Linked DNA regions of Homo sapiens: region 2 is linked to region 1. The links come from fine-mapping of genetic effects on gene expression. A gene starts in region 1. The other region holds a variant in brackets. All regions are shown on one strand. Distances are between the middles of the regions.

Region 1 (15,628 bases):
GGCATCTTCATAGGTGCAAAAGGGGAAATATAAAAGAGTCTATATCTATTCATGGTTTTAGATGTATCTTTGTAAGTTAGGAAATAAAAGAATTTCCTTCACCCAGTAAAGGGTTCCAAAAAAGCAAGAGCAAACAAAAATCTCATAATGGACGGGAAAGTGATGAAAGAATACCTTTTACAATAAGATACAAGATAAACAAGGCCTCCGTCACCACTCTTATTTCAACATAGTGCACCTGTTCACTGGGACAAGAAAACGGATCTGAAAGAAAGAGGCGAAATTATCATATTGGAGATAATTTGAATATCCATGCAAACTCTCTCCCCTTAAATCTATTGATAAATTGTTAGGATTCAAAGCAGCTTTGGTGAATATAAATCAACATACAAATCTGATTGTGTTTCTCTAAAAAAAAACTAATTGGAATTTAAAATTTTAAAGGATGCCACATGCAGTTCCAAGAAAAATATAAACTAGAAATAATTCTTATAAGAGATTGTAAATCTTATTGAATGATATACAATGTTATTGCCATATACAAAATCCTTAAAAATGAAGGATAACATTACATTCTTGTACAGGAATTATTATTATGAAGATGTTAATATGCTCCCAAATAGACCTTTATATTCAGTAAAACAATAAAATCCCAATAGAAATTTTCATATCAAAATATAATTCTGAAATGTATGTGGAAAATAGAAGGGACTAGTACAAGCCAAGAGACGCCTGAAGCACATAGGTGGGTGGGAGGTGGGAATGATGATTGAGTTGGACCTACCCTATAAAGATTTAATTTAAAAACTATGGTAATTAAGACTTATTGGTTGGCCGGGGGCGGTGGCTCATGCCTGTAATCCCAGCACTTTGGGAGGCTGAAGCGGGCAGATCAGAAGGTCAGAAGATCGAGACCATCCTGGCTAACACGGTGAAACCCCCGTCTCTACCAAAAATATAAAAAAATTTAGCCAGGTGTGGTGGCGGGCGCCTGTAGTCCCAGCTACTCGGGAGGCTGAGGCAGGAGAATTACTTGAGCCCGGGAGGAGGAGCTTGCAGTGAGCCGAGATCAGGCCACCGCACTCCAGCCTGGGCGACAGAGCGACTCCGTCTCAAAAAAAAAAAAAAAAAAAAAAAAAAGACTTATTGGCACACGGATGAACAAATAATAGTGAAAAAAACATAGAACCCAGAAACCAATGTAGGCAAATACGAAAAGCTGGTTTATAACAGATTTCTGGGCAGTGGCGTAGGTGAACTATTCATTAAATGGAGCTGGTGCCATTTGTATTTAAATGAAAAAAAAAAAATGGATCCCTTCTCCCTACCTTAGAGAAAAATAATTACAAGTGACTTAATACTTCTGTGTGAAATTCAAAACTCTATCATATTTTAAAAGGCAATATTAGATATCTTCATGAGTTGGAGTAGGGAATGATTTTTGTCAACAAGACCTCACATTTATAAAACATAAAGTACATTTTGATCAATTTGATTTCATTTAAAATAAAAACTCTTCAGTGAATGGTTCTTATATAACAAAAGCTACAAACCACAAACTAGGAGGAGATATATGAAAATACGTGCATCACACATAACTGACCAAACCACTTTTTCAGAAAAGGTAAAGCACTTCTTCATGCAAATAAAAACAGAACACAACCAATAGAAATACAAGGAAAACAATGAAAAGGTATTTCACAAAAGAGGCAACAAATGGCTCACAAACATGAGAACAATGTTCAAGTATATTAATAATCAGATAAAAGCAAATGAAAACAACAAAATACTTTTTCCAACTAATATTTGGTGACTACTTTAAAATGTCAACAACATCAGGAGTAGGCAGTAAGGTGCAGCTATGGGGATATTCAACTGTGCATGATGCTAATGTAATTAGTGAAACCACTTCTGAAGAGGCAACTGAAGTCACCTGTGCCTCAGGGACTCAGTCATTCCACTCAGGTAATCCAAAAGTCCTGTGGGCTCACTGATGTGTGCAAGAAGGTTCAAAACAGCATTGTTCATATTGGCAAAAACTGAGAAACCACCCAACCACCTATCACTGACAGAATGGATCATTAAATGGTGACCTAGTCATACATTTAAATACCGTGAGGCAAGACCTAGAAATGAACCGCAGCTATAACAAACTCGCATTGATTAATCTCAAAAACATAATAAGTGAAAAGAATCAAGTCACAGAATGATACACTATAATTCGAAAATGAGGAAAACAAAACATATCTCTTAGGGGAACATGTATCACCAGGAAAAATAAAAAGAAAATCGAAGGGAATGAAGTTCACTTCACAACTGGAAATTTATTTTGGTGGGAACCCCTGAGGATGCAACGGGCATGCTCTTATGGGTACATGAGTCTGCAAAGGTCCCCATCATGTCTGCTTCCCAATCTAGGTTCTGGACCACAGAGACTTGTGTTATGGTTACAGTAATTCCTTAAAGTTCTCATTATGTTTCTCTGCACTCCTTGATGTGTATATTTCAAAACCAGGATCATCACCATCGTAACACTGAACTCAGGATTCTTATAAGGAGGAACTAAAATGGTGATTGTAAAAGGATAGCTCCTAGGACACTGAGGTTTGGCGTGAACCCAGAAGATGACTGTAACGATTGTAGGGAAGCTGGAATAGCAGGAAAACCATGCCCAATGATGAAATCTCGACCTTGCGTCTAAAAAACTTAGCGCCTGTTCTGCCTACGCAGAAAGACAGTAGCCGATATCCATTAAGTTCTTCTTGCAGGCCAGGCACAGTGGCTCATGCCTGTAATCCCAGCACTTTGGGAGGCCGAGGCGGGCAGATCACTTGAGGTCAAGGGTTCGAGACCAGCCTGGCCAACATGGTGAAACCCTGTCTCTACTGAAAATACAAAAATTAGCCGAGGCCAGGCACAGTGGCTCATGCCTGTAATCCCGGCACTTTGGGAGGCCGAGGCGGGCAGATCACTTGAGGTCAAGGGTTCGAGACCAGCCTGGCCAACATGGTGAAACCCTGTCTCTACTGAAAATACAAAAATTAGCCGAGGCCAGGCACAGTGGCTCATGCCTGTAATTCCGGCACTTTGGGAGGCCGAGGCGGTCAGAACACTTGAGGTCAAGGGTTCGAGACCAGCCTGGCCAACATGGTGAAACCCTGTCTCTACTGAAAATACAAAAATTAGCCGAGGCCAGGCACAGTGGCTCATGCCTGTAATCCCAGCACTTCGGGAGGCCGAGGCGGGCAGATCACTTGAGGTCAAGGGTTCGAGACCAGCCTGGCCAACATGGCGAAAGCCCGTCTCTACTGAAAATACAAAAATTAGCCGGGCATGGTGGTGTGCATCTGTAATCCCAGCTACTCAGCAGGCTGAGGCAGGAGAATCTCTTGAACCCGGGAGGTGGAGGTTACAGTGGGCCGAGATGACGCCACTGCACTCCAGCCTGGGTGACCGAGTGAGACCGTATCTAATAATAATTAATAATTTCTTCTTGCACGACAGGTTTAGTTACGGCAGAAAGATGTTGTGCCACACGAACATTCTTCAAGGAGTTTAGCATGTAGGAAGGAATTAGACATTTAAATTATAAACAGAGTCACCCCAACTCTCCAAATGAACCATTTTGGAGAGACTGGAGGAGCATCCCTGCAGCCGTGAGCCCTGGGAATTCTCAATAGGAACCTCCAGCTTGAAATATCCCCCGCTCTATACGACACCAGGAGCAAAGGTCTAGAACAGCCCCTCAAGGGGCGGTGGGCGTTTCGCTTCACATATTTTCTGGATCTGTTCATCAAAAGCCCTCTGAGCCAATGGCAAGGGAGCAATTCGTTGGCCAATCAAATGGCACCACGGATCTTTTCTTCCCGCTTCCAGCCGCCAATCATTAAGGACCAGGAAGGCGTGGAGCGGTGAGTCAGCGCTTCGTGCTGGGCTGTTCGTCTCTTCTATGTGCTGATTTCCTGGGTTACTTTGGGTCTTCCTTTTCTTTCTCCCTTTTACCCTGTCTCCTTTCTTGAGGCTGATCGATCACAGCCAGGCCTCTCCATTCTATTTACCCAGCGTTTTCCTTCTCTCCAGTTAGTGGGGTAGATGAACGCCCTGTGTTTATAAGGTGCCTCCCAGGAGCCTGAGACCTGTGAGAAGAATGGGGGGTGGAGGTGGGGGAGACTCGTCACGAAGGGAGACCTTGGAGCTTCGAGGGTGGGAATGTTCTTATTAGATTCTTCATCTCTGTTGACACAAACATGTAGGAGAAGCTGGAGAACATAGACAGGGATGAGGTAAGGGGGGGGACTTCCCATGAAAGGTGGGACCCAAGCCCTCTCTGCTCTTGTGAGCTTGCTCTCTGACCTAGGGCAGAAACGTCTTTGATACTGTAATTCCAGAATGTGATTTAAAAAGAAAATCACACTTCTAGTTGACTCATACTAATTATGTATATTAGCTGCAGAGAGATGTGTTGGTACATGTATACGTATCATTAAATCAGGGTAATGAGCATATCCATCTCCTCATACCTGTATCATTTCTTTGTGTTAGGAACATTCAGAATCCTCTCCTTAGGTGGGAGGAGGGAGAGGGTCAGGAAAAGATAGCTATGGGGTCCTATTCTTAATACCTGGGAGATGAAAAACTGTACACCAAACCCCTGTGACACGAGTTTACCTGTATAACCAGTGTATATGTACCCCTGAACCTAACATAAAAGTTAGAAAAACCCTCGAAAATAATAAGATATTAAGTATATTCAACCTATAGTGCTACTGAACACCAGCACCTATTCCTACCTACAGGTGTAACTTGGTATCCATTAGCCAACCTCTTTTCATCCCCCTTCTCCAATTATGCCATTTGTTTAGACTATGAAACGTATATAGAAAGAATATTTATCTTTCTATATCAATAAAAGTTGGTTTTTACTGTTAAGGGTTGAATTGTGTCCCAACCCTAAAAACACACACACACACACAAAGTCCTAACCCCTTTATAGGGTGACAAAATAAGGTTGTTGCAGATGTAATTAGTTAAGGCGAGGTCATACTGGAGTGAGTGGCCCCCCTAACTTAATGACGGGTGTCCTTATGAAAACGGCCACATGCGGCTGGGTGTGGTGGCTCATGCCTGTAACACCAGCACTTTGGGAGGTTGAGGTGGGTGGATCATCTGAGCTCAGGAGTTTAAGACAAGCCTGGAAAACATGGCAAAACCCTGTCTCTACTAAAAATACAAAAATCAGCTGGGTATGGTGGCAGGTGCCTGTAATCCCAGCTACTCAGGAGGCTGAGGCAGGAGAATTGCCTGAACCCAGGAGGTGGAGATTGCAGTGTGCCGAGATTGCACCATTGCACTCCAGCCTGGGTGACAGAATGAGACTCGGTCTCAAGCTGGATGCAGTGGCTCACACCTATAATCCCAGCACTTTGGGAGGCCGAGGCGGGTGGATCACCCGAGGTTGGGGGTTCGAGACCAGCCTGACCAACATGGTGAAATACAAAAAATTAGCCAACTGTGGTGGCGCATGCCTGTAATCCCAGCTACTCAGGAGGCTGAGGCAGGAGGATTGCTTGAACCTGGGAGGCAGAGGTTGCAGTGAGCCAAGATTGCGCCATTGCATTCCAGCCTGGGCAACAAGAGTGAAACTCCATCTTAGAAAAAATGGCCACATGAAGGTAGAGACAAGCAGAATGGCATGTGACAAAGTCAGAGTGAAATTACATAGCTGCAAACCAAAGAGTGACACAGGTTGCCAGCAAACCACAGAAGCCAGTAAGAGGCAAGGAAGGGCTCCCCTGGGTTTCAGAGAGAGCAGCACCCTGCCAACACTTTGATTTTGGACATCTAGGCTCCAGAACCATGAGACAGTAGGTTTCTGTTTTAAGTTACCTAGTTTGTGGTACGTTGTCATGCCAGCCCAAGGAAGCTAGTACGCTATTAAAAGAAAAAAATGATGTGATTTTACACTTAGAGAACAGCTTCAAGAATATATCCTTAGGATCACCAAATGTTAAAAGTTTACCTTATATGGTGTCCCTCTACTCTTATATAAGTATTTTTCCTGATCTGTTCAAGATTTGTACACATTGTACAAATTTACATCTAATAATTTACCCTAAATGCTTCAGGGTTTATCTTCTAAAAATAAAAATAAAAGTAAGCTCTTTTGATAACCACACTATATAAAAAACAGGAAATTAATAGAATGATATTATCTAATGTACAGATCTTACACTTAATGGACTTTTTAATTTTTGCATTTGTTTTCACAAGTAGACCGAACATGGAAATTCTTACACTAAGCCTGTTTTTTTTTTTTCTTTTTTTAAATTTAAGTTTTGGGATACATGTGCTGAATGTGCAGGTTTGTTACATAGGTGTACACGTGGCATGGTGGTTTGCTGCACCTGTCAACTGGTCATCTAGGTTTTAAGCCCCACATGCATTAGGTATTTGTCCTAATGCTCTCCCTCCCCTTTCCCACCCCTCACCCACGGGCCTCAGTGTGTGAATGTTCCCCTCCCTGTGTCCGTTTGTGTTCTTATTGTTCAACTCACACTTCTGTGTGAGAACATGCAGTGTTTGGTTTTCTGTTCCAGTGTTAATTTGCTGAGGATGATGTAAACCTGTTTTCATTATCTAACCTATGCCTCAGTTTGAGTGTGTGTGTGTGCTCTTTCACACACATATACACACATGCTTATGCTCTCACACACACATACCCACACACATGCTCTCTCTTAGATTCTGGAAAAATAATTTTTATTTAAATTTTGACATAATTTGCTGATGAAGATGTTTGAGCCTGAAGTCTTCTGTGGGGGAAGAGTTAAAAAAAAAAAAAAAAGCTTTCAAAACTTCACACACACAAAATAGATGAAAGTTGTCATTTTCTAAGAATTTATATATTTGAACAAAATTATCAGTTTTATTGGCATAAAAATGGTAATAGTCTCAATTTTTGATATCTGTAGGGTATGTAGTGGTGTCTTCTGTTTCTGGTATTAATTGCTCATGTCTTCTTATTCATCAGACTTGTTGGGGGTTATCCAGTTTGTATTTTCAAAGAATCTACTTTTGACAGAGTCTTGTATTTTAATTTTTATTTCATTGATTATTTTTTCTACTTTCTTTTGGTGTGTTTTGCTTTTTATCTAAATGTATAATTAGTTTATGAATTTTCAACCTTCCTTATGCCTTTGAAGTAGCACATTTTTCCAGCTCCTGATTTAGCTGTATTTCACTCACTTCATATGCAACATTAAATATTCAGTTCAAAATCTTATATCCGATATTTTCTCTTTATTCATAGATTACTTAGAAGTATGTTTCTTAATTTTGGAATGTCCTTCATTTCATTGTCAAATTCTGACTTAAATTATGATCAGAATATTCTGTGTAACTTATATTATTTGAAATATGTTGAAGCTTGCCCTGAGGATCAGTATATAGCTGACATTGGTAGCTGATTCGTCTATCTTATAGTGTTTTTTCCATTTATTGAATGAAAAGGTCTGTGTCCACAAGGTAAAATTTTTCCATTGTTTTTAAGCCCTTTATTTTCTTTTTAACTTGTTTGTTTAATTGCTGGAACAAATTGATAAAATATCCTGCTATGATTAGGGACTTACCTAATTCTCCTTATGGTGCTGACCATTGTCGGGGGTGTGTGTGTATAGACATATGTGTATGTGTATGTGTGTGTGTGTGTGTGTGTGTGTGTGTGTGTATACATATTTTCTTTTTTCTTTTTGAGACAGAGTCTTGCTCTGTTGCCCAGGCTGGAATGCAGTGGTGCCATCTCAGCTCACTGCAAGCTTTGCCTCCCGGGTTCAAGCAATTCTCCTGCCTCAGCCTCCCGAGTAGCTGGGATTACAGGTGCCTGCCACCACGCCCAGCTAATTTATTATTTTTTATTTTTTGGTATTTTTAGTAGAGACGGGGTTTTACCATGTTAGCCAGGCTGGTCTAGATCTCCTGACCTCGTGATCCGCCCACCTCGGCCTCCCAAAGTGCTGGGATTATAGGCGTGAGCCACAGCACCCGGCTGATCATTCGTATATTTTAAGGCTGTGTTATTGTTGCATGTATGATTATAATTGTTCTCTCTTCCTGGTAATTTGAGCCCTGTGGTTATGCAGCATCTAGATTTCTCACCAATGTTTTGGCTTGGGGTCTGCTTTTCTGGTATCAATATTATGACAACAGATTTTTTTAAAAGCCTGGAATAATTCAATATCTTTTCCTTCTAATTCAAGTCGTGCAATAAATGGAATGGATGAAGAGTTTGGTGAGTAAGATGGGTTATCATACCTTACGTATGCATGACATGCTATTTTGTTCAGATTTCCCATTTAAAAATTTCTTAAATTGACATATAATTGTACATATTTATGGGATACAGTGTGATGTTTGGACACATATATCCATTGTATAATGATCCAATCAGGGTAATTATCATATCTGTTTGTTTAGACACATTTCTTTGTAGTGATACTCAAAATCTTCTAGCTATTTTGAAATATCCGCCACACTGTTATTTGCTTTAGTTACCCTAATTTGTAAGAGAACACTAGAACTTGCGCTTTCTAACTGTAAGCGTGCCTGTTGACCAATCGCTCCTGGTCTCCCGTTACTCTCCCATCCCTTCCCCAGCCTCTAGTAACCACTGTTCTACTCTCTACTTCTATAAGTTCATCTTTTTAGATTCCCCATATAAATGAGATCATATGGTAGTTTTCTTTCTGTGCCTGCCTTATTTTACCTCGTGTCCTCCACGTTCATCCAGGTTGCCACAAATGGCAAGATTTCATTATTTTTTATGGCTAAATAATATTCCATTGAGTATATATACCACATTTTCTTTATGCATTCATTTATTGATAGGCACTTAGTTTGTTTCTATATCTTGGTTATTAGTAATAGTGCTGCAGGCCGGGTGCGGTGGCTCATGCCTGTAATCCCAGCACTTTGGGAGGCCGAGGCAGGCAGATCACGAGGTCAGGAGATTGAGACCATCCTGGCTAACATGGTGAAACCCCATCTCTATTAAAAATACAAAAAAAAGTTAGCCGGGCATGGTGGCAGGCACCTGTAGTACCAGATACTTGGGAAGCTGAGGCAGGAGAATGGTGTGAACCTGGGAGGCAGAGGTTGCAGTGAGCCGAGATCGTACCACTGCACTCCAGCCTGGGTGATAGTGCGAGACTCTGTCTCAAGAAAAAAAAGGTGCTGCAATAGACATGGAAGTAAGGATATCTCTTTGACATACGAATTTCCTTTTTTAAAGAGGTATATACCCAGCAGTAGAATTACTGGGTTATATGGTAGGTTCTATTCTTAATTGTTTTAGAAACCTCCATACTGTTTTCCATAGTGGTTCTGCTAACTTACATTCCTACCAATGGTGTGTAAGAGTTGCCTTTTCTCTGCATCCTTGCCAACATTTGTTATTTTCTTTAGCCATTCTAACGGGGTGAGTTACCCCAGATTTTTTAGGTTCAAATTTGCATGTTTAGTCTTTCAACTTTCGTTTTTCCGTTCTTAGTTACCTCTTTAAAGAGCAAGTATTTGGTTTTTGTATTTAGTCTCACCATCTTTGCCTCTGTACCATTGAGGCAATTATTCTGTGTAATTACTAATAAGAGTTCGAGTTGACCATCACTTTTTTATTTACCTTATCTGTTCTAGGTTCCTATTTCTGTCCTTCTTTATTTTTTAGGTTAGTTTGTCATTTTTCCTCTTCTCTATTTACTTTGGCAGACAAACTTTTTTATGGTTATATCAGAATTCTATCAGTGGGCTTATCAGAATTTCTTATCAAATTTTTACTTCTGTCATCTTCCCAGAGAAGAACATTAGAGCACTTGATGTCCTTTTTCTTTTTTTTTTAGATTTACGTGCCAGCTGTGATAAATTTTAATTCTATTTTCTGTCTCACAAGACTGACTCTATAAAGCAACTTGTCTTCTAATTGACTGTGGCATCTCTTAATTTTCACCTGCAATAATTTTCCTTCTCTCCAATGGTCAATTTTCAAAATTTCCTATAGTGTAAGTCTTCTGTTGGAAAATTTGTCATTTATCTGCAAATGTCTACTTTTATTTCTTTTTATTTTATTTTTATTTTTGAGATGGAGTGTTGCTCTGTCACCCAGGCTGGAGTGGAGAGGTGCGATCTCAGCTCACTGCAAGCTCTGCCTCCCGGGTTCACGCCGTTCTCCTGCCTCAGCCTCCCCAGTAGCTGAGACTACAGGTGCCCGCCACCACGCCCGGCTAATTTTTTGTGTATTTAGTAGAGATGGGGTTTCACCGTGTTAGCCAGGATGGTCTTGATCTCCTGACCTCGTGATCCGCCCACCTCGGCCTCCCAAAGTGCTGGGATTACAGGCGTCAGCCACCGTGCCTGGCCTTATTTCTTAAAGATTATTTTATTCTGGTTAGACTTGAGTCAGCAGCTATTTGTTTTGAGCACCTTGCATGGTTGCTTCTTTAGTTTCTTCTTTCTGTAGCACCTGATCAGGTCAGCTGTCAACATAATGGCACAACCGTTCAAATAAATTATTGTCCTCCCCTTGCCTTACCCCCACTCTGGAATGCTTTCAAGATTTTCCCTTTTGTGTAACTTCTTTATGTTCTAATGTCATTATGTTTCCCTATAATGTGTCTAGACATGGGTTTGTTATTTATACTCTTGGACTTTATTGGGCTTCTTAATTAGTAGATTGATTTTTTTTTCATTGGTTAATAGAAACATCCAGGCCAGGCACAGTGGCTCACACACCTGTAATCCTAGCAGTTTGGGAGGCAGAGGCGGGTGGATCTCCTGAGGTCAGGAGTTCGAGACCAGCCTGGCCAACATGGTGAAACCCTGTCTCTACTAAAAATACAAAAAATTAGCCAGGCGTGGTGATGGGCACCTGTGATCCCAGCTGCTCAGGAGGCTGAGGCAGGAGAATCACTTGAACCTGGGAGGTGGAGTTTGCAGTGAGCTAAGATTGTGCCACTGCACTCCAGCCTGGGCAACAAGAGTGAAACTGTCTCAATTAAAAAAATTATAAAAAGAAACATCCTAGTAGCAATCTTATATTAGGTTGGTACAAAAGTAATTGCGGTTTTTGCATTTTTTTCATGGCAAAAACCACAATTACTTTTGCACCAACCTAATAAAACATACTACATCTGGTCCACAGTCTCTTTTCTCCTTTTGGGGAGCCAGTAACAAGTGTTAGCCCTTTTCATCCTTAGTCTCTTGTCCTCTCTTCTGTGCTTTTCATCTTTTTATCTCTCTCTTCTTGGATGACTTCTCTTTACGTGTCTTCTAGACCACTAATTATCTCTGTCAAATCTGATACTAACACATTGTATTAGCTTCCTGGGGCTGCTGTAACAACATACCACAAAACAGACAGCTTAAGCAACAGAAACTTACTGTCTCACAGTTCTGAAGGCTAATAAGTCCAAAATCAAGGTGCTGGCAGGCGTAATTTCTTCTGAAGACTGTGAGGGAGAATCAGTTTATTCCTCTCTATTAACTTCTACTTGCTTTAGGTGTGCTTTGGTTAGTAAGTGGCATTTTCCCTGTGGCATGGTATCCTCTTCCCTCTATTCATATGTGTCCAGATTTTCCCCTTTCTTTTTTCTTTTTATTTTTCGAGATGGAGTCTCACTTTATTGCCCAGGCTGGAGTGCAGTGGCATGATCTCAGCTCACTGTAACCTCCCGGGTTCAAGCAATTCTCCTGCCTCAGCCTCCTGAGTAGCTGGGAAGACAGGCACATACCACCACTTGGCTAAGTTTTGTATTTTTGGTAGAGATGGGATTTTACCATGTTGGCCAGGCTGGTCTTGATCTCCTGACCTCAGGTGATCCGCCCACCTTGGCCTCCCAAAGTGCTGGGATTACAGGTGTGAGCTACTGTGCCCGGCCAGATTTTCCTCTTTCAATAAGGTCACCAATTATATTGGATCGGGGGCCCACCCTGCTTTAGTATGACCTCATCTTACATGTTCCAGTACAGCTAATTGCATCTGCAAGGATGCTATTTCCAAACAAGCCCAGACTTCAGTTGCACTTTGTGACCTCCAGTGTAACTCATTGTATCTACGAGTATGCTATTTTCAAAAACTTCATACTTCAGCATGTAACTTTTGCAGGGGGACATACATTGGATGCAGAAAAGAGTCCCTGGTGATTTTTGTGGTGGTAGTGGTGGTAGAGGAGTGTGTGTGCGTGTGTGTATGCATGTGTGTGTGTGTTTGGGGGAATATTTAAAGTTCCATCTGTAGCCAATCTGAATGCAGTCTTTCCCCTCACTTTCAGAGGATCTCTTCCCAGAGCCGGAGGTATTAATATTTCAGCCTGTGGCAAGAGGCTACACTTTTTTTTAATTATTATACTTTAAGTTTTAGGGTACATGTGCACAACGTGCAGGTTTGTTACATATGTATACATGTGCCATGTTGGTGTGCTGCACCCATTAACTCGTCATTTAGCATTAGGTACATCTCCTAATGCTATCCCTCCCCCCTCCCCCCACCCCATAACAGTCCCCAGTGTGTGATGTTCCCCTTCCTGTGTCCATGTGTTCTCATTGTTCAATTCCCACCTATGAGTGAGAACATGCAGTGTTTGGTTTTTTGTCCTTGCAATAGTTTGCTGAGAATGATGGTTTCCAGCTTCATCCATGTCCCCACAAAGGACATGAACTCATCATTTTTTATGGCCGCATAGTATTCCATGGTGTATATGTGCCACATTTTCTTAATCCAGTCTATCATTGTTGGACATTTGGGTTGGTTCCAAGTCTTTGCTATTGTGAATAGTGCTGCAATAAACATACGTGTGCATGTGTCTTTATAGCAGCATGATTTATAATCCTTTGGGTATATACCTAATAATGGGATGGCTGGGTCAAATGGTATTTCTAGTTCTAGATCCCTGAGGAATCACCACACCGACTTCCACAATGGTTGAACTAGTTTACAGTCCCACCAACAGTGTAAAAGTGTTCCTATTTCTCCACATCCTCTCCAGCACCTGTTGTTTCCTGACTTTTTAATGATCACCATTCTAACTGGTGTGAGATGGTATCTCATTGTGGTTTTGATTTGCATTTCTCTGATGGCCAGTGATGATGAGCATTTTTTCATGTGTTTTTTGGCTGCATAAATGTCTTCTTTTGAGAAGTGTCTGTTTATATCCTTTGCCCACTTTTTGATGGGGTTGTTTTTTTCTTGTAAATTTGTTTGAGTTCATTGTAGATTCTGGATATTAGCCCTTTGTCAGATGAGTAGGTTGCGAAAATTTTCTCCCATTCTGTAGGTTGCCTGATCACTCTGATGGTGGTTTCTTTTGCTGTGCAGAAGCTCTTTAGTTTAATTAGATCCCATTTGTCAATTTTGTCTTTTGTTGCCATTGCTTGGTGTTTTAGACATGAAGTCCTTGGCCATGCCTATGTCCTGAATGGTAATGCCTAGGTTTTCTTCTAGGGTTTTTCTGGTTTTAGGTCTAACATGTAAGTCTCTAATCCATCTTGAATTAATTTTTGTATAAGGTATAAGGAAGGGATCCAGTTTCAGCTTTCTACTTACGGCTAGCCAGTTTTCCCAGCACCATTTATTAAATAGGGAATCCTTTCCCCATTGCTTGTTTTTGTCAGGTCTGTCAAAGATCAGATAGTTGTAGATATGCGGCATTATTTCCGAGGGCTCTGTTCTGTTCCATTAGTCTATATCTCTGTTTTGGTACACTCTGATCTTGACACTGTCTCCACATCAAGAAAAGTCCAACTCTAGTTGCCTGCTTCTCCAAGATGGTCTCAGAGCAAAGCACCAGCAATGTTCTTGCCCAAAGTCATTCTTTAAGTCAGTGGTTTTCAAATCTGGGCATGCGTCAAAATTAACTGACATTATATATAACTGATGTTATATAACAGATATATAACTGATATTATATATCTAATATCATCACTAACTATTTGCCCAAAATTAACAGATGGCTGTGCCCTACCCTCAGCATTTAGTGTGTCTAGGGAAGGACCTGGGGATTTGCATAGCAAGTTACCAGTTGGTGCTGATGTTCCTTGGAGAAGTATTGCCTTAGGTGCTCAGTGGTGGCCTCAGGACTCAGATACATGTTCCTATAATTAAGATTTTACTAAAAGTAGGCTTTTTAAGACTATTGGCAAAAGCACGCAGGGGAGAAGCCATGAAGGTCACCTTTCCATCATCATATTCTCATTCCGAATACTGCTTAATAATTTTCCCTAATTTTTGTGGGTTTTATTTATTTATTTTGAGACAGTCTTGTTCTGTCACCCAGGCTGGAGTGCAGTGGCACAATCTTGGCTCACTGTAACCCCCACCTCCCAGGTTCAAGAGATTCTCATGCCTCAGCCTCCTGAGTAGCTGGGGCTATAGGCGCCTGGCTACTTTCCCCTAATTTTTGGATCTTAGATGCTATTAAATTTTTTTTAAATTTTTCTCCAAATTACCTATTTTATTTGAGGGGGGGGCAGCAACATTCTGCCTAATGGCCACCCATGAATAAAACAGCTTTATTTTTATTTTCCACTGTATAACTTAACCCTTTTATTGACTTTGCTATTGATCTCTAATTTCATTGCCCTTAAGACAAAGAAGATGACTTTGCTACTGTTGGCTTTTTGTTTTTGAATTATGATTTCCTTTAAAGCTCAGAGCATAATTGATTATCATGAGCATAATTACAAGCTAATTGATTATCATGAATGTTCCACGTATGCTTGAAAAGAATGTTCTCTTGTGTGTAGGATTCCATAAATATTCATAAAATGTGTTGATTTTTATATATCTAATATGAATAACTATTTGCCCTATGTTTTTAGTATCTTTTAAAATTTTAGACTTGTTTTAGACACAGAAAAGTTTGCAAAAATAGTGCAGAGAGTTCCCATAAATCCTGTGCCACATTTCTCTAGTAACGACTTTCGTTACCATGGTACATTTGTCATAACTAATAAACCAGTATTAATAGATTATTAACTAAGATTATTCTTTCTTCAGATTCCCCCCTTTTTACCTAATATCCTTTTTTTTTTTTTTTTGAGATGGAGTCTCGCTCTGTTGCCCAGGCTGGAGTGCAATGGTGCGATCTCAGCTCACTGCAACCTCTGCCTCCCGGGTTCAAGTGACTCTCCTGCCTCAGCCTCCTGAGTAGCTGAGACTACAGACACCTGCCACCACGCCCGGCTAATTTTTTAATATTTTTAGTAGAGATGGGGTTTCACCATCTTGGTCAGGCTGGTCTCAAACTCCTGACCTCGTGATCTGCCTGCCTTAGCCTCCCAAAGTGCTGGGATGACAGGCGTGAGCCACTGCACCTGGCCCCTAATATCCTTTTTATGTGCCTGGACCTCATCTAGGATCCCCCACTGGGTTTCATTGCTGTGTCTCCATTGAGTTCTCTAAACTAGGACCACTCTCAGGATTTCCTTGTTTTCAGTGATCTTGAACGTTTTGAGAAGCACTGGTCAGGTATTTGTGGGACATCATTCATGTTGGGTTTGTGTGACGTTTATCTCATTGCGAGACTGGGGCTTTGAGGAGGAAGACCACGAAGGAAAGGTGCCCTTCCCATCATATCATATGCTA
Region 2 (16,680 bases), 42 kb after region 1:
AAGTATTATTCGGTTCATGCTAATTTTTAAATTATCTTCCTACTCAGTTGAACTTTAAATCTTACAAGGTGAACATAATTACTTCCCATATAGAGTCCAGGAATCTAAGAGAAATCATAATGGAAATTAGAACATATGTTGAAATGAAAAAGGAATATACTTTGCAACAAACTCAGATGGAGCTGTAGTGCATGTATATATTTTAAAAGGAATCTAAAGAATAATGAACTTAAGGATTTTTTTAATGGTAAAATAAACCCCCTAAAGGATGGAAGGAAATAAAAATAAGGACAGAAACTAATGAAACAAAAATCACAATGGAAAAGATCAGAAACCTGCAGGGTGGTTCTTGGAAAAAACAGTTTTTGTTAATGCCATCCTATAGAATATAATGCAAGCCACACATGTAATATTAAATTTTCAAGTAGCCATATTAAAAGTGATGTAATATTTGAAAGTAATTTTATAAGTAAATATTTGAAACTAATTTTAATAATATAGTTTATTTAGCCATATATCAAACATCACTTCAATATGTAATCAGTACAAAAAATTACTAATGAGAGATTTTACTTTTTTGTATTAACTCTCTAAGGTTCACTATGTATTTTATACTATGGCACATCTAGATTCAGACAAGCTACATTCCAAGTGCTCAGTGGTCACACGTGGCTGGCTATCACACTGAAGAGTGCAGGTCTATGTCAAGAATGGGAAAAGAAACATTACTACAGATGCTACAGATATTAAAAAGATTACATATGAGCAACTTTACACAATAAACTTGAAAATTTAGATATTTTCAAGACTCAATAAGCTTCTAAAATGATAGAACCTAAATGTACTCAAGACAAAAGAAAAATGAATCAGTCAAATCTTTTTATATAGAAAATTCCAGGCTTAGAAGCCTTCATTGGTGATTCTTACCAGACATTCAAAGAATAAATAATTCCACTCTTACATCAGCTTTTTCAGGATCAGAAGAGGAGAAACTCCCCACCATTTTTTGTGGCTAGCATAATCTTGATGCCAGAAACCAATAAGAATTTTATTGGTTGTAATATAATCCTTACAATTTTTGTAAGAAAGCAGAATTAAAGGCTAGTGTCATTCATGAAATGCAAAAACACTGAACAGAATATTAGCAAGCAGAATCCATAAATGTATTAAAAGAATAAACATAATGACTAAGTTGGGCTTATCCCCAAAATGTAAAGTTGCTTTAACATTAAAAAGATTAGTAAAAAAATCAATGTAAATCACTTTACTGGTTAAAAATAAAAATCATGATCTAAAATGCAGAAAAGTTTGAATTAAGACATACAATTCTTGAAAAACTATTTGGGAACTTCCTTGATGATCTAAAGAATATGTTCAAAAAAATCTAAAGCAAACATTTGTCTAATGATGAGAGAAAAGCTTTCTCTTCAATATCATGAAAAAGATAAGAACGGTGGCTATAATCACTTCTAGTCAACAGTGTCCTGAAAATCTTAGCAAATGCTTCAAGGTAAGAAAAACACTAAACCTGTAATCTTTGAAGAAACACCTAATTCTATACAGATGATTTGAATGTACATAGAAAAATCCAAGAAAATCTGTAGCTAAGTTATCAGAATTAGTCTAACAAGCTTGCTTGAAACAATATATCAAAAACAGTTACTGATATACCAACAAGAAGTAATAAGCTAGTGGAATTAAATAAAAGTACCTTTTACAGTAACATAAAAAAGAAATTACCTAGAAATAGCTACTGTGATATATGTGAGACTTTTATAGAGAATATGATCAAATTATGGTATAAAACAATGTTATATTCAAAGATTGAAATATTCAGTATCTAAAAAGTCAGTTTTCTGTAAGTTGAATTCATTTGCTTTCATGAAATCCCAGTGAAAATGCGATGTTTTTGTTTGGTGATTGAGTTGAACTTGAAAAGTAAATTTTAAAATGTGTATGGAACTTGCAAGAGGCCAAGAATACCTAAGAAACACCTAAAATATAAAAAGTGGGCCAGGCGCGGTGGCTCACGCCTGTAATCTCAGCACTTTGGGAGGCTCAGGTGGGTGGATCACCTGAGGTCAGGAGTTCAAGACCAGCTTGACCAACATAGTGAAACCCCGTCTCTACTGAAAAAAAAAAAAATACAGAATTAGCTGGGTATGATGGTGGATGCCTGTAATACCAGCTACTCAGGAGGCTGAGGCAGGAGAATCACCTGAACCCGTGAGGCAGAGGTTGCAGTGAGCTGAGATTGTGCCGTTGCATTCCAGCCTGGACAACAGGAGTGAAACTCCGTCTCAAATAAAAATAATGTAGGAACTCTTGCTCTAAATGTGTCATCTAAAGTTTTAGAAATTAAAAAAGCATGAGATTCACACAGGGATAAGCAGACAGACCAGAGACACAGAATAGAGATCTCAGAAACAGACTGATCCACGTGTGTTCAGATGTCGCATCATGGAATAGCGTATCACTGGTGCAGAGAGAGGATAGACCTCCAACAAACGATGCTGAGACAATTCAGTTGTCCCTCCATATCCATAGGAGGTTGGCTACAGATTTCCCCTGAGGAGTCCAAAATCTGTAGATGCTCAAGTTCCTAATGTAAAATGGCATAGTGTGTGTTTTGAGACAGTCTCTCACTTTGTCGCCCAGGCTGGAGTGCAGTGGTGCGATCTCAGCTCACTGCAATCTCTGCTTCCCGAGTTCAAGTGATTCTTGTGCCTCAACCTCCTGGGTAGCTGGGACTACAGGCACGCATCGCCATGCCCGGCTAATTTTTTGTATTTTTTGTGTTTTTTTTAGTAGAGATGAGGGTTTCACCATTTTGGCCAGGCTGGTCTGGAACTTCTGACCTCAGGTGATCCACCCACCTCAGCCTCCCGAACTGCTGGGATTACACGCATGAGCCACCGCATCTGGCCTATATAGTGTTTGCATATAATGTACAGGCATCTTCCCATAATACTGTAAATCATCTCTAAGTTACTGTGATATGTAATACAATGTAAATGTTGTGTGAACAGTTGTTATACTCTATTGGTTTTTTCGTTTGTATTTTTTAGTGTTGCGTGTTATGTGTTATTGTTTTAATTCTTCAATAATTTCAATCTGCCACTAGTTGAATCTGTGGATATGGAGGACTGACGGTGCCTATCCACATGAATGACAAAGGCTGTCGTGCTTTGGTGTCTCTTTTCCTGATATTAGACTGAGGTGTAATAGCCTTTAAGCATGGTACCCTTACTCCTTTGCAGTTTGGTAAAATGTTTTATCACTGCTGCTGGCTGTGAAGACCTCGCCTCTGCTCTCATCAGCAATCAAAACCTGAAGATTCTGCAAATTGGGTGCAATGAAATCGGAGATGTGGGTGTGCAGCTGTTGTGTCGGGCTCTGACGCATACGGATTGCCGCTTAGAGATTCTTGGGTGGGTATCGCCAAGCTCCTGGTTATGTTTTCATGAGTGGCAAAGACGGAAAATGGATGGGAAGAAAGAGAAAGATGAAAACTCCAACAGGACCACATAGCAGCTAGCTGTGGTTGCATCATGAACCAGTGTAAAACTTCAGGGCTTAAGGCAATGAGAAGTTAGATTGCTGCTGGCTCTGCTTGTCTGGGCAGGCGTCACTGACCTCAGCCAGGTGTGCTTAGGAAGCTGTGGTTAACTGAGGGATTGGCTGGTTTGGGTTGACCTTGCTATATGGTATGGAGGTTGGCTGGCTGGGTTGGCTGTCCCCTTGGGGATGACAGGTGTAACTGGGCCACGTCTCATTATCTAACTGGTTGGCCTGGGCTCATTGACATGGCATCTGTATCAGTTTGCCAGGGTTTAAAAAGTAGCATGGACTGGGTGGCTTAGGTAATGAATTTATCACTTCACGGTTATGGAGGCTGAAAGTCTGAGATCAAAGTGTCAGCAGAGTTGGCTCCTTCTGAAGGCCATGAGGGAGAATCTGCTTCAGGCCCTTCTTGTCTTGTCGATAACCATCTGTCTTCTCCCTGTGTCTTCATGTTCTCTTCCCTCTGTGTGTGTGTGTCTAAATTTCCTCTTATAAGAACACCAGTCATATGATTAGAATCCCCCCAGTGTCCTCATTTTAGCTTAATTGCCTCTATAAAGACCTTGTATCCAAATATGATCACATTTTGGGGTACTGGGGTTTAGGACTTCAACGTATAAATTTTGGCAGGGACAGAAATGAGCCCATAGCAGCATCTCAGGAGTTCAAGAGATGAAGTATAGAAAACATCCAAGATCACCAGGTGTGATAGCTTAGTCCTGCAGTCCCAGCACTAAAGGAGCCTGAGGCAAGCCAATAGCTTGAGGCTAGGAGTTCAAGAACAGGCTGGGCAACATGGTAAAACCCCATCTCCATAAAAATTAGCCAGGCGTGGTGCATGCCTGTAGCCCCAGTTACTCAGGAGGCTGAGGAAGGAAAATTGCTAGAACCCAGGAGGTCAAGGCTGCAATGAGCCATGATCATGCCACTGCACTTCAGCCGGGATGACAGAAACCCCATCTCCACAAAAATTAGCCCGCAGGCGTGGTGCATGCCTGTAGTCCCAGCTACTCAGGAGGCTGAGGCAGGAAAATTGCTAGAACCCAGCAGGTCAAGGCTGCAGTGAGCCATGGTCATGCTGCTGCACTTCAGCCAGGATGACAGAGACCCCATCTCCAAAGAAGAAAAACACCCAAAATGGTGGCTCAGAACTCTCCTAATCTTGCTTCCATTGTTATCTGAGACGGCTTCATACCTTTTTTTGGATAATATGTTATATTATCCAAAGCAAGGTATGAAGCCGGAAATAGACTCTGTTAGTGGAATGAGCTGCAAAGTCACATTGCTGTGGGCAGGGATACAGAGAAGAATGGACACTTATGGCTACTTTTACCACCTACCCACAGACGCGTGATCTGAGGTCGTAAACACTGGACTGTGAGAGATTGCACTTGAGGCAATGGGGTGTGCCTCAACTAGACGTCTAGCTCACATCCCATCCTACCTCCACCCTGAGGCTGGGGCCGCATCTTACCATGTGTCTTTTTATTGCAGGTTGGAAGAATGTGGGTTAACGAGCACCTGCTGTAAGGATCTCGCGTCTGTTCTCACCTGCAGTAAGACCCTGCAGCAGCTCAACCTGACCTTGAACACCTTGGACCACACAGGGGTGGTTGTACTCTGTGAGGCCCTGAGACACCCAGAGTGTGCCCTGCAGGTGCTCGGGTGAGCTGGGGTCTGTTGTGCTCTATGGGCAGAGTGCTCCGGGCTAAGAAGGGATTGGCTGGGACCTGCAGTGTAATCACGTTGCATTTAAAATGCAAATGATGTTCCTTGTCTCAGGGTTGTTGCAGGAGTAAGAACCAAGCAGGTGAGTATAAAACTCTTACCACAGTAAGTGGTGAACAGTGAATGTCCAACAAATGGAAACACTTGTGAAGTGGCCTCATTGTCTGGGGTAACACCCGAGGTTCATTGTCCCAGGGCCGTGGAGATCCAAGGACGCAGAGATCCAAGGACGCAGATACACAAAGAGTGAGGTTAAGAGCAGAAGTTTAATAGGCAAAAGAAAGAAGAGCTGTCTGCTACAGAGAGGGGTCTCGGAAAAATGGATTGCCCGATCCATGGTGAAATGCAGAGGGTTTTATAGACGAGCTGGTGGGAGGTGTGGTGTCTGATCTACATAGGGCATGAAAAACTGGTTAGGACCAGGTGTGCCGTTTGCATAGGGTGTGAATTTCTGGCAGCCCCCACCCCAGTCTTTTATTAAGCAGGCAGGTTCTCTGCCTGAGCTGCACTATGTTGCCCATTTCTTTCTTACTGTACCCATGCTAATAAAAAAGGGAAGATGGTGCTTCCATGGTGAACAGGCCTGGCCCCCAGGTAGCTCTTTTCACTGGCGCAGCTGCTGGCATTCCCCCCATGCAATCTTCGCGCTCCCTTATTTATGTTTGCAGCTCAGTTTTTCAGGATGCTCTTTGTTAGAAAAGAAATGATTTCTTGGGCTGGTTTTTGTTAGAAGGGAAGCTCTGCTGAGGACTTTTGCCCTCACTATCTGCCTAAATAATTTTTTACCTCCTATATCACTTATTATTATAATACAAATTATGATACATGTTTATATTTTAAATATTTATGTGTAAATACAAGTTATATGTATATTCATAAGTATAACATTTATAAATAGAAACTTATATAAACATAATTTATATTTTAATTTGTTATATTTATAATTACATATAATCCCACAAACATTATTTTACTAGATAACTATAGAGTCCTTAACATTTTTCTCATTCATTTTCCCCTACTGTTTTCAAACCAATATGAGATGAAGGTAATCATAGGCAGTTATTAGGCTGTTCATTTCCAGAAAAGGGAAATATAATGGGTTAAAACTGTTATAACTCTAACGCTAAAGAACATTCACTGATTTTTTTTTTTCCATTTTGTGAAGATACAGGTTTGTTTTCTTGAAGTCCATCCTTATAAATCTCCACCTGGAAAGGCTGAGTGCTTGGCATTGTTTCTTTCTCATTTTAATGTTTGCTAAAGATTCAGAATGTAGACTACCAAAGTAGACACGTGATTAAGGGGAAGGACTCAAATTGTCTGCATTCTGAGTCACGGAGGTCTGTGTTTGTCTCCTAGCCTTGCCATGTTTGGCCCTGTAAGCCAGGGTAAGGCATTTGTCCTCTTTGATTATCAGCCTCCTATCTACAAAATAGGGATGATTATTTGGCATGGTAATTATGAAAGTATGCATCAGATAATGTGATAACTATGGCAGAACTAAATAAGTGAGTTTTCATCTTCCTCCAGCCCCTACCATAGATAGTCTCACAAAGATGTGTATTAAGATACATAGTTGTGCTAAAGAACATAGCTTACCCCAACAGTGTGGGACAGTTGCACGCAAACAGATGCCAAATGGAGATGAGAGATATTATACGTAAAAGGAAGGACCAAGACACGGTGATACTTAATCCTTCTGATTCAAAGCAATGATACAACGTATGGGGGCTCCAGAAACAAATTGCTTGAATTTGTATCCAGACTACCACTTTCTGGTTTTGTGACCTTAACATTGTTCTCATTGTCTTCATCACAAGTCGGGACAATTATGCTACCTCATAAGGCAGTTGTGAACATTTAATGAGATAGGCATGTAAAAAGCCTTAGCAGAGGGCCAGGGCCCAGGTACTCGGATAATGGAAACTATTAACTTTATCTTTGAAAAAGTAAAAATAGCTTCAGTCTTTCTCCCTAACTCCCACTGACTTCTTGTTGCAAATCCAAATGTTTGTGTGGAGTTCATGCCTTCTATTACCAATTCTGGACATTTATTTATGTCCAGTGACATATTGGAGCCAGCTCCTACAAGCTGGTGAGAGCCACGTGTGTGTGTGTGTGTGTGTGTGTGTGTGTACCTGTCTTTGTAACTCTGTTTAGTGACAGCAAGTGGGCAGCTCAAAATTGGCCATGATTGCCTTGGAGAATTTACACCACAGAAATTGGCAAAGCTATAAATTGGGACTTTATTTATTTTCTGGGGATCCAGGGGTAACATTTATCAGCATACCGCTGCATTTGATGTGTATGTCTTTCCTCTTGGAGGTAACACCAGGGTTTCCTAGGCTTGTCCTGGGATGAATTAGGGAGAAAGATGAGCTGCAGAAAAGGGAAAAAGTATGTGAATTAAAAATAGAACCTCTTAAAATATTTTACCAGGCTGAGAAAAACTGATTTTGATGAGGAAACCCAGGCACTTCTGACGGCTGAGGAAGAGAGAAATCCTAACCTGACCATCACAGA[C/T]GACTGTGACACAATCACAAGGGTAGAGATCTGATTGCGAGGAACCTGGGCTCTGACTCGAACACCTGCAAAGGACAGGGACTGGGACCGTTACTTACATGACACTGCACCCAGGAGATACAAATCATTGATACTCTGAGTTGTGAGATTTCTGGCACCCCATTCATAGATTTGATATGATACACGTGGTTTTTATGTGCTCTGTGGCCTTGGATGAGTCACTGAAAGGCCTTCATGGTCTCTCGGTCTCACAAGGACCTCTTAACCCCTCAATAAAGTGTTACATTTCTAAACATTGGAAATTCTTTTTTTGCCTTTTTTTATTTGTATAAATTTAAGGGGTACGAGTATGGTTTTGTTACATGTATATATTGTGTGGGAAAATCTGGGCTTTTAGTATACCTATCACACAGATAGTGTACATTGTACCCATTAGGTCAGTTCTCACCCTGCACCTCCCTCTCACCCTCCTGAGCCTCCAATGTCTACTATTCCACACTTTTTTTTTTTTTTTGAGATAGATTTTCGCTCTTGTTGCCCAGGCTGGAGTGCAATGGTGCAATCGCGGCTCACCACAACCTCCGCCTCCTGGGTTCAAGCGATTTCTCCTGCCTCAGCCTCCTGAGTAGCTGGGATTACAGGCATGCACCACCACGCCTGGCTAATTTTGTATTTTTTTTTTTTTTTTTTTAAGTAGAGATGGGGTTTCTCCATGTTGGTCAGGCTGGTCTTGAACTCCCGACCTCAGGTGATCCACCTGCCTCAGCCTTTCACAGTGGTGGGATTACAGGCGTGAGCCACTGCATCCAGCCACTCTTTATATATTATTTAGCTCTCACATACAAGTAAGAACATGCATTATTTGACTTAGTTTCTGAGTTATCTCACTTAAGATCATGGCTTGAGTTCCATCCATGTTGCTGCAAAAGACATGATTTTATTCTTTTTATGGCTGAATAGGATTCCACTGTCTATAAATCATGTTTTCTTGATCCACTCATCTGCTGGTGGACACTTATGTTGATCCCATGACTTTGCTATTGTGGAGAGTGCTCCAGTAAACACATGGATGCAGGTATCTTTTTAGTATGATTTCTCTTGCTTTGGATAGAACTCGGTAGTGAGGTTGCCGGACAAAATGGTAGCTCTATGTTTAGTTCTTTGGGAAATCTCCATACTGCCTGGAAAATCTTGAAACAGTGTTTGCTACTGATGAATGACTGGAATAGGAGTGCAGGTTGAAGAAACTGTGGCCCCCTCCCCGTGTTGACTTGGAAAGACGCTGGCCACACTGAAAGCACTAGAAAGGCTGGTCTGACTTGGGCACCCTTCTTTCTGCCAGTCCTACTAGGATTCCAGGTTGGGCTCCTGATCTGTTCTTGCCTGATGAAAGCACCTTTTTTATTGGTACATAATAGTGGTATATATTTTGGGGTTCATGTGAATGTTTGGGTAATTTCCATGGCATTGCTAATATTACCTCTCCTCACGGTCTTTGCCTCTCATATTCTTCCCCAAACTCCCCTCTGGCTCTCCTTTCCTCATTGGGCCTCTTGAGTTCTGAGGCTACCCTGTCTCCCCTACCTTTGAATAAAGATCTCTTGGGAGTGGGAGCTGAAAGGAAATTTTAGGAATGGGGGTATTTCACTTCTGAATTTTTTTTTTTTTTTTTTTGGAGACAGATCCTCGCTCTGTCACCCAGGCTAGATTGCAGTGGTGCGATCTTTGCCCACTGCACCCTCCACCTCCCGGGTTCAAGCAATTCTCCTGCCTCAGCCTCCCGAGTAGCTGGGATTACAGGCGCGTGCCACCACACATGGCTAATTTTACTATTTTTAGTAGAGACGGGGTTTCACCATGTTGGTCAGGCTGGTCTAGAACTCCTGACCTCATGATCTGTCCTCCTTGGCCTCCCAAAGTGCTGCAATTACAGGCGTGAGCCACCGTGCCCGGCCTCACTTCTGAACTTCTGTGCCACTGATTTAGGAGTGAAGATTGAGAAAATCAGCAACCTGAATGTCCATCAATGGGTGAATGGATAAACAAAATGTGGCATATAAATAAAATGAAATACTGAGTCTTCAAAAGGAAGGACATGCTGATATATGACACAACATAGATGAACCTTGAGGATATTATGCTAAATGAAATAAGCCAGTCACAAAAGAGCAAATACCGTACATTCTCCTTCTATGAGGTACTTACAGTAGCCAAATTCATAGAGGCAAAAAGTAAAATGTTGGCTACCAGAGGCCAGGGGAAGGAGGAGAAGATGGAGTTATTTAATGAGCATAGAGTTTGTTTTGCAAGATGGAAAAGTTCTGGAGATGGATGGTGGTGATGGTTGTAAAATGTGAGTGTGCTCAAGGCCACAGGGATGTACACTTTAAATGGGTTAAAATGGTAAAATTTTGTTACGCATGTTTTACCACAATAAAAAGAAAGTGGGGAGGCTGGGTGCAGTGGCTCATGCCTGTATTCCCAGCACTTTGGGAGGCCGAGGCAGGTGGATCACCTGAGGTCAGGAGTTTGAGACCAGCCTGACCAACGTGGAAAAATCCTGTCTTTATTAAAAATACAAAAAATTAGCCGGGCGTGGTGGTGGTGCATGCCTGGAATCCCAGCTACTCGGGAGGCTGAGGCAGGAGAATCGCTTGAACCCAGGAGGCAGAGGTTGCAGCAGGCAGAGATCATACCATTGCACTCCAGCCTGGGCAACAGGAGTGAAACTCCATCTCAAAAAAAGTGTGGAAAGAAAAATAACAAACAGGAAAATCTGGGAAGTCATTTAGTCTGTCATCTGTAAAGTGGTAATGATTAAGGACTATCTATTGCACCTGGGTGCAATAGACGTGATAAAATATAAAAGCAGCTTGAGGAACCAAAGAACCTATTCTCCAGCTACCTTAATTATGTTCATGAGATGTCCATTTCCACCCCCAGCAGGAACATTAACATTTTTCTCCTAACGGTTTTCCCTCCACTAAAAATACAGGTCAGTAGAAAAGAGGGAGAAGGAAGTGCTGATAGAGAACGGGTACTGAGCTGCCCAGCACAGTGGTTTACGCCTGTAATCCCAGCACCTCGGGAGGCCAAGTCAGGAGGATCGCTTGAGCCCAGGAGTTAGAGACCAGCTTGGGCAACATAGAGAGACCCTACCTCTACTATCTATCTATCTATCTATCTATCTATCTATCTATCTATCTATCTATCTATCTATATCTATCTAGAATTATTATTATTATTATTTTTTAATTATCTGGGCGTGGCGACTCATGCCTGTGGTCCCAGCTACTCAGGAGGCTGGGGAAGGAAGACCACTTGATCCTGGGAGGTTGAGGCCGCAGTGAGCCGCGATCACACCACTACACTCTAGTCTGGGTGACACAGCAAGGCACTGTCTGAAAAACTTTTTTTTTTTAATCACAAAAAAAGAGGTACTAAGCTATAAAAAGTCTAAGTTACAAGTAAAGAATCTTAATGACAGAATTGAAGGAGATTATTCACCCAAGAGCTATTAATACATTGACAGGTGCTTACCACAAGCTGAATATTTTATATGTTATTTCAATTCTTGCAAAATCTGAGGTTGATGCTATAAGACCCTTCTTGTAATGGGAAAATTGGCCTAAAGGGTACAAGTAACTGCTTCCAAGCTAAGAAGCTGTCACTCTGGCTGCCTTCACCCTGGGAATCCTTTTCCACCCAAGTTCATTATTCCTGGAATTCCATCTGTCTCTTCTTCAGTCCAAGGATCTCCTGGGCTGTTTCAGCACTCTACCACCTCTGTCTCTCATAACCTGAGCTGTGCACCAAGCTTGACTCACCTCAGCCACACATTAGTCCTGGGCACATCTAGCCAAGCTTTTAAGATTGCATGGTTGGCCGGGTGCAGTGGCTCACGCCTGTAATCCCAGCATTTTGGGAGGCTGAGGCAGGTGGATCATGAGGTCAGGAGTTCGAGACCAGCCTGGCCAACATGGTGAAACCCCGTCTCTACTAAAAATACAAAAATTAGCCGGACACGGTGGAACACACCTGTAGTCCCAGCTACTGAGGAGGCTGAGGCAGGAGAATCACTGGAACCCAGGAGGTGGAGGTTGCAGTGAGCTGAGATTGCACCATTGTGCTCCAGCCTGGGCAACAGAGCGAGACTGTCTTAAAAAAAAATTGCAAGGTGGTGGGTGAGGAAGTGAGTGTCAAAAAAGACAGCAAGCAGGGTGGGTAAAAGGAGAGGGAGGAAAGGTAAATGAAGCTGGAGACACAAATAATCCGTCTACCTTCCTCATAAGTATAGGCTTGAAGTTAGACAATTGGTCACAAGCTAATTGGTCTGTCTTGGTTCACGGGCTTCATAATTTGGAGGCAGCCTAGAAAAAAGTTCAGCAGTCAAGGTACACTGGAATCCCTTCTATCTCATCTCTTCTCTTTTCCTGAATCACCAATTACCCCTTCCAAACCCCCTCCAAGACCTATTATGGGCCCCCCCAGTCCTACAAAGTAACATTGGCCTGACTGTACAGTGGATTTGAAATCATCTGTCTACTCTAAAAAAATGTTGCTTTAAGATACTTTGATGTAATTGAATTCTAGGACAAACTTAGAAATTGTAGAATAACAACAAAAAAAATTCCTAAATTAGTAATTGAGTAGACTAAATATGATTGACTTGAGTATTGATTAGTAAATTGAAAATTTAGTAATTGAGAATTTGTGGATCAAGCATTAAACAGAGGATATCCCTGTGTTTTTGTCTGTTTTTTGAGATGAAGTCTCGCTCTGTCACCAGTCTGGAGTACAGTGGCGCGATCTCAGCTCACTGCAGCCTCTGCCTCCTGGGTTCAAGCAATTCTCCTGCCTCAGCCTCCTGAGTAGCTGGGACTACAGGTGCCTGCCACCATGCCCAGCTAATTTTTATATTTTTAGTAGAGACAGGGTTTCACCATGTTGGCCAGGATGGTCTCAATCTCTTGACCTTGTGATCTGCCCACCTCGGCCTCCTGAAGTGCTGGGATTACAGGTGTGAGCCACCATGCCAGGCCATCCCTGGTTTTTTGTTTGTTGTTGTTGTTTTTTTTCTCTGAGACAGAGTCTCGCTCTGTCACCAGGCTGGAATGCAGTGGCATGATCTCTGCTCACTGCAACCTCCACCTCCCGGGTTCAAGCAATTCCTCTGACTCAGCCTTCTGAGTAAGTGGGACTACAGGTGCGCACCACCACACCTGGCTAATTTTTTTTTTGTATTTTAGTAGAGACGGGGTTTCACCATGTTGGCCAGGATGGTCTCAATCTCCTGACCTCGTGATCTGCCTACCTCGGCCTCCCAGAGTGCTGGGATTACAGGTGTGAGCCACCGTGCCCAGCCCATCTCTGTTATTTTTAAAGAAACAATGGAGAAATCTTGGGATAGTCTTTATTTATCTTGTCAGATTATCAGAAATAACATGGTTGGCCAGGTTTGGTGGCTCACGCCTGTAATCCCAGCACTCTGGGAGGCCAAGGCTGGAGGATCGGTTGAGCTCAGAAGTTTGAGACCAGCCTGGGCAACATGGCAAAACCTCATCTCTACTAAAAAAAGTTACATGGTGGCACACACCTGTAGTCCCAGCTACTCGGGAGGCTGAAGTGGCAGGATCCCTTGAGCCTGGGAGGCAGAGGTTGCAGTGAGCCGAGATGGTGCCACTGCACTCCAGCCTGGGTGACAGAGTGAGACCCTGTCTCAAAATAAAATATGGCCCATTTTAATAGCTGGTAACTGAATATGAATCAATGAGATGAAGATTAAGGCAATTAACCTTTGATTTTATTTTTAACCTTTATTGCCCTGACAATATTTTCTAAATTAGTTCACATACGTCTCCCACTCTTTCTATCCCAGATTTCATCTACAAAGGGCAGTAAAGATATAGAAAAAGGAAGAGAATGAAGTATTTATTTCAAGGACTCTGGGTTTTACTATGTCTAATAGTGAGAACATGGATGGATAGAAGGATTATAGCCTTCAACTTATTGAAAGATCCCATCAGGTGTTGTAAAGTGGGTCAGATCTTAAAATAGAAAAGTTGGATTTATAGGCCAGTTTGACTTACTATCTCTGTAATCTGTTGTAAAGCATTTTCTTTTGGTATCTTTGCTTTTAAATCAGTAAAGTAAGGCTATCCTATCTTACAGGGCTTTGATGGGGATTTAGACCCTCTAGGAAGGTGTTTTATAAGCTATGAAATGCTAAATGGATCTCCAGCTATTCTGTAAGACTGCTTCTGATAGCGTCTGCTTATTGAATAATAAAATAGTACAAGAAAGACTCTTGGTGTTAGAGCGGGGGAGAGAAAATTACAACTTAATAAGATCTTATTCTTCATAGAGATTTCCATCCATGACACATCGATTTCACATATCCTGTGCGGGATACAGTTTTATATTTTCAGGTGAGTAAAGTACATTTTAGAAGTGTTACACAGCCACAGAGCTAACAAAGGCAGAAGTGAAAGCCAAAATTGGGTCTAATTTAATTACAAATTATTTCTGTCCTCATCATTTTGAAGATGAGGTAATTAGGTCCAGAGAGGGGAAGTGACTGACCCAAAAGTAACAAAATAAGGAATTATCCTGGGGTGTAAAGACAGAGTCTGTGGCCGGAGGCAGACCATATTTCTGTGCAAATGGATAGGACAGAGTGGTGGTGAGTTCATGGAGGAAGGACGGAAGACCACATCATTGGCATCTAACAACCAAACTGATTAAGAAAAACTTTATTTTGGCCGGGCGTGGTGGCTCACGCCTGTAATCCCAGCACTTTGGGAGGCCAAGGTGGGTGGATCAGAAAGTCAAGAGATCGAGACTATCCTGGCCAACATGGTGAAGCCCCATCTCTACTAAAAATAATACAAAAATCAGCTGGGCATAGTGGTGTGTGCCTGTAATCCCAGCTACTCGGGAGGCTGAGGAAGGAGAATCACTTGAACCCGGGAGGTGGAGGTTGCAGTGAGCCAAGATTGCACCACTGCACTCCAGCCTGGCAACAGAGCGAGACTCTGTCTCAAAAAAGAAAACAACAAAACTATTTCAGATGGATAAAATAAGCGAAAGGGAGGTGGTCCTTACGATGGTTTTGTATTAACCTGAATATTATTCCTGTAAACAGGGTCCCATTCTACCTCCATGTCCTGCACATCTGCAGAATAGAGAAGGAAGACTTTTACTTTCTGGAGAAAATTTATTTCAAGTCTCCTTGAGCAGCAATCTTAAGTCTCAACCCATAGCATCCAATCCTTTGTGTATTAGAGGGTTTACCTCTCTTGTCCTGCAGCTAACTCAGGTTGACACTTTCTATGCCTCAGAGCCTTTATTTTTGTCTTATCAGGGTACAGGTGCTGGTAGATGTGGCAGTGGGTACTTGTGGAAGATCTGGATTCTTATTTCTTCAAGAAATATGTAAAATCAACTGAGCATGAAAATGGAGAACTGTTGAGGACAATGGAAGTTGAGTAGAACGGGTTAAAGCAGTATGTTACAGTATCATGTGCAACAGTACCATAAGCAACGGTAAGAAAACTCTTAGGATTAGCCATAAATTTAAGCAGGGTTGAACATCCTTCAGCATGTTCAGCTATCTGGATACAAGTGTGGAATACGTAGAACATTGGAAAAAGGCTTGTGGTTTTAAGTGCATAGGACAAAGTGAGAGGGGCAGGCAGAGCATGGAAGATGTTTAGACAAATTTGAGGGGCTGTTTGGAGTACCGTCAGCTAAATAGATAAACTCTAAGCAGGGTGAAGTATAGCAAAAAGGCAGCTGTCTTCAGGAACTGAGAAGGGTTTGGGGTGTTATTCTACTTATGAGCCAAAAAGCCTGTTCCTGTTTCATGGAAGCTAGCAGAAGATATGAGACTCCTGGCCCAGAAACAAATAATTTTATCATCCATGACAAAAGCATGAGTCAGTATTTCTTGTTGCTTTTAATCAGTTCCTCATACTTCCCAAGTCTCACAGCTTTGGGTGCCATAAAGGGTCCATGATAGATGACTGTACCTGCTGTAGACTGGATTAAGAGAAGCATGCTGAGCTTAGGGAATCTGCCGATTTTCAATAAGCAGAACAAGCCTGCTTTTTGTCTGGGGTAGAAAGTTACCTTATCCCTCAAGTTTGCTCAGTGCAAACACAACCTGGCAAAAGTCCTTGGCAAAAAAACAAAAATTAAAAAAAAGAAATTTAAAAGTCAGGGTCCAACATTTTATGCATACCCATAAAGAATGTACAGGGGTGCTTAGGGCCCATGATAAACAGCCTCTTGCTATAGTATATCAGTGAGAATGGAATCTACAGATTAATCTCTGGTTAGAGTCAGTCAGGAAGATATGAAGTGGTTGTTGAAGAGGCAAATGCCAATTAAAAGTGAAACTACTAGGCCAGGCATGGTGGCTCACGCCTGTAAACCCAGCAGTTTGGGAAGCCGAGGCGGGTAGATCACAAGGTCAAGAGATCGAGACCATTTTGGCCAACAGGGTGAAACCCCATCTCTACTAAAAATACAAAAAGTAGCCGGGTGTGGTGGCGCATGCCTGTAGTCCCAGCTACTCGGGAGGCTGAGGCAGGAGAATTGCTTGAACTCAGGAGGCGGAGGTTGCAGTGAGCCGAGATCGCACCACTGCACTCCAGCCTGAGCGACAGAGCGAGAGTGTCTTAAAAAAAAAAAAAAAAAAAAAAAAAAACTACAAAATAGTTGGAATTTCTGGAGTTTGAGCATGAAGGAGGCTTAGATACGGCAGAAGATACTGTCGTTGAAGATGCAGTCACACAGGGATGTCCGATCTTTTGGTTTCCCTGGGCCACGTTGGAAGAATTGTCTTGGGCCACACACTAA

What was found.
Region 2: its variant is fine-mapped to the expression of NLRP4 in testis (GTEx, PIP above 0.99).

Annotation. Positions count from the first base shown.
Region 1 is chr19:55,832,652-55,848,279 of GRCh38, forward strand. NLRP4 (NLR family pyrin domain containing 4) reads left to right here and starts at 3,889. Exons shown (of 10, transcript NM_134444.5): 1 at 3,889-4,283. It also overlaps a transcript of NLRP11 not described here.
Region 2 is chr19:55,873,736-55,890,415 of GRCh38, forward strand. It overlaps NLRP4 (NLR family pyrin domain containing 4), which reads left to right. Exons shown (of 10, transcript NM_134444.5): 8 at 3,261-3,431; 9 at 5,059-5,229; 10 at 7,735-8,120. The coding sequence ends at 7,852. Among named protein-coding and RNA genes, the nearest start is that of NLRP4, 46 kb to the left of the region's middle. The variant C/T (reference allele first, on the strand shown) is at 7,819.